Regions from separate parts of the Homo sapiens genome. Here region 1 is linked to region 2. Evidence: fine-mapped QTL for protein levels in blood plasma. A gene starts in region 2. The other region holds a variant in brackets. All regions are shown on one strand. Distances are from middle to middle.

Region 1 (2,951 bases), 35 kb before region 2:
ATGAGGATGAAAACAGAAGGAAGATGGGCCGGGCACAGTCACTCAAGCCGGTGATCCCAGCACTTTGGGAGGGCGAGGTGGGGGTGGACCTGAGGTCAGGAGTTCCAGAGCAGCCTGGCCAACATGGTGAAACCCCATCTCTACTAAAAATACAAAAAAATTAGCCACATGTGGTGGCAGGCAACTGTAATCTCAGTTACTTGGGAGGCTGAGGGAGGAGAATTACATGAATCTGGGAGGTGGAGGTTGCCAAAAAAAAAAAAAAAAGAAGAAAGATGAATGAGGTGGGGGTAGGTGACAGAAACTGAAAAAAGCAGGAAAGATAGAAAGATGGAGATAAAGGAAGAGATGGAGAGAGATCCAGAGCCGGGGTGGGTGATAATCCAAGTTGGGGAGAAGGAGGGATAGAAACTGAATCTGCTAGAGGCTGGGCACAGTGGCTCAGACCTGTAATCCCAGCACTTTGGGAGGCCGAGGCAGGCAAATCACTTGAGATAAGGAGTTCAAGACCAGCCTGGCCAACATGGTGAAACCCCGGCTCTACTAAAAATACAAAAAAAATTAGCCAGGCACTGTGGCAGGTGCCTATAATCCCAGCTACTCAGGAGGCTGAGGCAGGAGAATCACTTGAACCCGGGAGGCGGAGGTTGCAGTTAGAGTTAATCGAGATCACACCACTACACTCCAGCCTGGGCAACAGAGCGAGACTCCATCTCAAAAAACTGAGTCTGCTAGAGGATGCCACAAACAGCTGGGGGTAAGATTGCTGGCAGGAGTGGGGAAGCTGAGCAGGACAGGGACAGTCACAGCCTATGGTGCTGCAGAGGCCAGGAGTCCGAGCAGTTTCTTTGCCCTGGACTCTGAAGACACGGCTAGGACCAGTGGAGGGGAGGGACCAGGGCAGGTTTAACTGTTATTTGAGGGACAGAGTCACTCGTGCAGAAACAGGCAGCCAGGGGTGATGCAGGGAACTCAAGTTTTGGGGTAGTGGGGAAGCCAGGCCCACCTGAGGGGTTGCTGCATAGAGGAGCACTCGAGAGAGGATGGATCTAGGGCCTTCCACCACCAGGAGGCTTTCCCAGGGATACACGGGCAGATGCCCCACCTGACCTGATCCCTTGCACACACATGCCAAATCCACGTGGATGTACACACATACACGCCCCACAGTGAAGGCGTGTCCACTGCCAGCCAGACTAGGGCCCCACAAACAGGCACACAACCTAGAGACACACAACTTCTGCTGCATTGTCCTGCATGCTGACACCCAGACAGACAGGTGTCTGTGGGCATATGCTGGGCCTCACAGGACATGTGTGTGTACATAGGCCATGTACACGTCCATGGGCAGGAGCTTGTGCATCGTGCCTGGACACAGTTGTACACGAGCTCCAGACCGTCAGAGCCTCAGAGGCCAGGATGTAGCCAGGTCTGCCCATGCACACACATGCTTGGATGCATGAATACATGAATACACAGGAAGATAGAGGCCGGGCCACATACACACACTCAGGTGCCTGCACGAGTAATCACATGCACATGAC[C/T]TCAGGTGCCTGCATGAGTGCTTGCGCACACAGCTTCAGGCACCTGCATGAGTATTCACGTGCATGCCTCAGGCGCCTGCATTATTCACACGCACGCCTCAGGCGCCTGCATGAGTACTCACGCGCACCTCAGGTGCCTGCATGTTTTCCTGTGTTTTTGAATGTGTGCATACACACACTTGGACTGTGTATGCACATCATCCCACAAGCATGATCACACACATACCCACATGGACACTATCTGCTCAGTCGCTCACCCCATGCCCACCCTGTCTCTCCTCTGTGCAGGGGGCGAGTACTTCAGTGATGAGCAGATGCGGTTCCGGGCCCCCCTGCTATATGAGCAGTACATCGGGCAGTATCTCACCCAGGAGGAGCTCAGTGCCCGCACCCCAACCCACCAGCCCCCCAAGCCCGGGTCCCCCGGGAGACCTGCTTGCCCGCTCTCCAACTTGCTGCTCCAGTCCTACGAGGAGCGGGAGCTACAGCAGCGTCTGCTCCAACAGCAGGAGGAGGAGGAGGCCTGCTTGGAGGAAGAGGAAGAGGAGGAGGACAGTGACGAGGAAGGTGAGGGCCAGTAGCAGGAAGACCCCAGATTCCAGACACCCCAGCCCTAGGCCTGTCTGTCTCCACTTCATGGCAGCAGGCTGGGCCCCCAACCTGCAAAAGCCGACATTGCGTCCCTCCCCTGCCCAGCCTGACTCTCTGTGTATGCCCTTCCAACCGCTGCAGCATCCCCATCCCCCACTCTGAGGCACCAAATGAACCCTCGCCTCCAGGTCTGGACAGGCTGTTCCCTCCGCCAGGAATGCCTCTCCTCCCACCCTTCAGGTCTCAGATCCTGACCCGAGGATACAGTCTCCAGAGCACTATATGGTCATGTGTTTTATGCGTGTCCCTGGAGGGCAGGGACCAGGGCCATCTCTGTCACTAGTGTGTTCCCAGAGCCACCCAGCGCAAGGCTGGGCACAGGAGCAGCAGCTCTCTGTGGACTCTGTGCTCAGTGCCTGCCCGAGTGCACCCGCATTCACACCCCCTCTCCTCTCCCTCTGCAGACCAGAGGTCAGGCAAGGACTCGGAGGCCTGGGTTCCCGACTCGGAGGAGAGGCTGATCCTGCGAGAGGAGTTCACCAGCCGCATGCACCAGCGCTTCCTAGATGGCAAGGACGGGGACTTTGACTACAGGTGCTCCTGTGCCTCCACCTCCCCATCCCCCAGCCCAGCATCCCACGGCCTTTGGTCACATGCAGAGCCCTTAACAAGCTGTGGGGGTCTCCCTTTGTGGAGCTACAAGGCCCCAAAACAGTTCCAGGATGTGGGGTTGAACAGCCAAAGGAAGAGGCTGGGTGACCTCGGACTAGCCTTGTCCATCTCAGACCCTCAGTCTCCTCACCTCTAAGGCAGGGG
Region 2 (2,500 bases):
TCTGGCCGCGGATGGCCTCGATGCGCTTCCGCTTCACCAGCTCCATGTCGATAGTCTTGCAGGTGGATAGTCCCGCGGCCGGCCGGCCAGGCGTCAGCACCAGTAGCCACAGCAGCGGTAGCAGCAGCGGCAGCAGCCGCAGCCCGGAGGGCGGCATGGGGGAGGCGGCGCCCCCCGGCACTGCCGAGAGCGCGAACAGGGCTGGTGTGGTGGGGAGGCCCCGCCCCTGCAGGGGCTGGGGGTCTCCCGGCAAAAGGTAGGAGGGCCTCGAGGGAAAGCTGAGGTCCTCAGGGAGAAGGGCGCAGTGGTGGAGGGGAGGCTTGGACCGGGGGTGTCTCAGTATCCCACGGAAATAACCTAGATGGGCGCGATCTGGTACCAGAAGGTGGGTGGTCTTGAATAGGGGATCTGTGGCAGGTCGGAGAGAGATCCGTCTCCTGGAGGAGAAAGGGTCTAGGATGCGCGGGGGCTCAGGAGACAGGCCGGGGATGAAGGCGGCGTGCAGGGGGTGCGCCCGAGGTCTGGGGAAAAGTCTTTGCGGGAGGCCGGGTCGGCGACTCCCGAGGGCTGGTCCGGAATGGGGGCGCCTGAGGGACGCCGTGTAGGGGGCAGGGAGGGAGCAAGCGTCCCCGGCGGCAAAGGGAGGCGGTCTGGGGTCCCCAAGTCCTGCCTCCTCGCGGGGCAGCGTCGCGCCAAGAGGTCCCCGCGCCTCCGGCTCCCAGCGGCAACGGAAAAGTCTCAAAAGTTTTTTTCCTCTTCTCCCGACCAGCTCGTCCCTCCTCCCGCTCCTCCTCCCCCTCCTCCCCGCAGTGGCGGGGGCGGCGGCGGCTCGTCTCAGACTCTGGGGCCTCAGGCTGCTCCTCGGCGACTCCTTCCTCCGCTCCGGGCCGAGGCCGGCCCCGCGGGCGGCTCAGAGCCGGGGGGGTGCCCCGGACGGGGCGTCCCCCCTGCCCCCGGCCGGGGCCCTCGCTGTCTGGCTGCTCCGCGGAGGGAGGTGGGAGGGAGATGGCCCAGGGCGCGAAGGGCGGCGGCGGCGGGGACCGGCTGGGTCGGCAGGGGGTTTTGAAGCCGCCCCCGGCCCCACCCAGGAAGCGCACGGGGCGGGAGCGGGGGCGGCCCCCAGGGGGAGGGCATGGGGGGGCTGGGCCACCGTCCTCATCTCGCGTGGGCGGGCTCCGAGGGGGGTCCCTTCAGCCCTGGGGGAAAGGGGGCGGGCACCCCGGCTCCGCCCCGCAAACAGGGTGCTGCCTCCTGGCGGCCAAGCGCCACCAAAGCGGGTGATCCAGATGCGCTGTGGCTTTGCGGGCGGTGTGGGTCACCAGAGAAAGAGGACCAGGCGGAGAAGGCTTAATCCGGGGGATGAGACACAGGGGAGCCGACCAGAGGAGGGGGACCCAGAACGGAAGGAGAGTCAGGCTGGGAAACAAGGTAGGAGAAGAGGGTCTGTCAACATGGGGGCCTCCGGAGGGTGTCAGTGGGAGGAGGGGGCAACAGGACACCTGAAGGATGGAAGGGTCAGGAGGCAGACACCTGTAAGAATTGCTCTCCTTTACTGAGCACCTCCCATGTGGCTAAGCAGCCTCCTGTCACTCAACACCCTGCGACCCCATACATTTACTGTCCCCAATTTACAGATAGGGAAACTGGGCCCAGAGGGACCCCGAGGTCCTAGAAAGGACAGAAGCGGTGCCATGCCTTAGCTGGGGTCAGCTCTGACAGTCTCTAGAGTCTGTGCTCTTGACCACTGTGCCATCCTCCCCCATCACTGGGTGTCCGGGGTGTGGATGGTGGTGACGTTGGAGGCAGAGTCCCTCAGCACTCCACGCCGTAGCGGTCGAAGTTGCGGAGCAGCAGGCCGATCTCCAGGTGCACGGTGCCACCAGCAGCTGTGTGCAGGCGATAGCGGTCGGCCCCACTGTAGATGGTGTCCCCATGCAGCAGCTGCGGCCCACCACCCACGAAAGCCCGTGCCAACTGTTCTCGCCAACTGCCCAGGGGCCGCCACGTGGGGCAGGCCAGCTGGTGGGTGCCCGGGCTACTGGGCACATGGCAAAATCCATAGCCTGCAAGCTGGCAGCGGCCAAAGCTGTCCTGGGACCACACCTGGAAATGGAGCCGGGGCCAGCCTGCAGGAAAGGAGAGAGAGGGGAAAGGAGGGATGGGTGGGGACCAGACTCCTGCTGATTCCCCACTCCCTGATACTCACTGGAGACCCCAGGCCCAGTCTTTTCCTCTCTGGGTTTCTGTCCCAGAGTTTCCAACCCAGCCTCCTTTCTAGGCTCCCACCGTCTTATCTATCCCCACACAGCAGCCAAAGTGATCTTTCCAAATCCATGTTACTCCCCTGCTAAGGATCCTTCCATAGCTCCCCAGTGCCCTCAGTATAAAGTCCAACCTCTTCAACATTCAAGGCCCTTCTAATCAGACCTCTGCTGAATTTCCTCTCTGTGTTATCCTCCTCCATGACCCCATGTCAGGGCAGCCCATTGCTCCTCCAGTC

Which allele goes with the higher level. Positions count from the first base shown, and alleles are read on the strand shown. Strength reflects both the effect of a copy and how common the allele is.
For the plasma level of the protein whose gene starts at base 1,035 in region 2, allele C in region 1 goes with a lower level than allele T (strong association).

What was found. PIP is the chance, under the fine-mapping model, that this variant and not a neighbour inherited with it causes the effect. The UK Biobank Pharma Proteomics Project read protein levels with antibody pairs (Olink). The fine-mapping took linkage between variants from a reference panel, not from the people measured, so its PIPs are less certain.
Region 1: its variant is fine-mapped to the plasma level of the TGFB1 protein (UK Biobank, PIP above 0.99).

The regions. Positions count from the first base shown.
Region 1 is chr19:41,317,742-41,320,692 of GRCh38, forward strand. CCDC97 (coiled-coil domain containing 97) reads left to right here. Exons shown (of 5, transcript NM_052848.3): 3 at 1,833-2,111; 4 at 2,600-2,729. Among named protein-coding and RNA genes, the nearest start is that of CCDC97, 9.0 kb to the left of the region's middle. RefSeq lists an enhancer at 2,191-2,928. The variant C/T (reference allele first, on the strand shown) is at 1,545.
Region 2 is chr19:41,352,888-41,355,387 of GRCh38, forward strand. It overlaps TGFB1 (transforming growth factor beta 1), which reads right to left and starts at 1,035. Exons shown (of 7, transcript NM_000660.7): 1 at 1-1,035. The coding sequence starts at 157. B9D2 (B9 domain containing 2) reads right to left here. Exons shown (of 4, transcript NM_030578.4): 4 at 1,530-2,126. The coding sequence ends at 1,813. RefSeq lists silencers at 1-47, 208-287, 588-657, 808-1,337 and enhancers at 1,338-1,487, 1,411-1,912.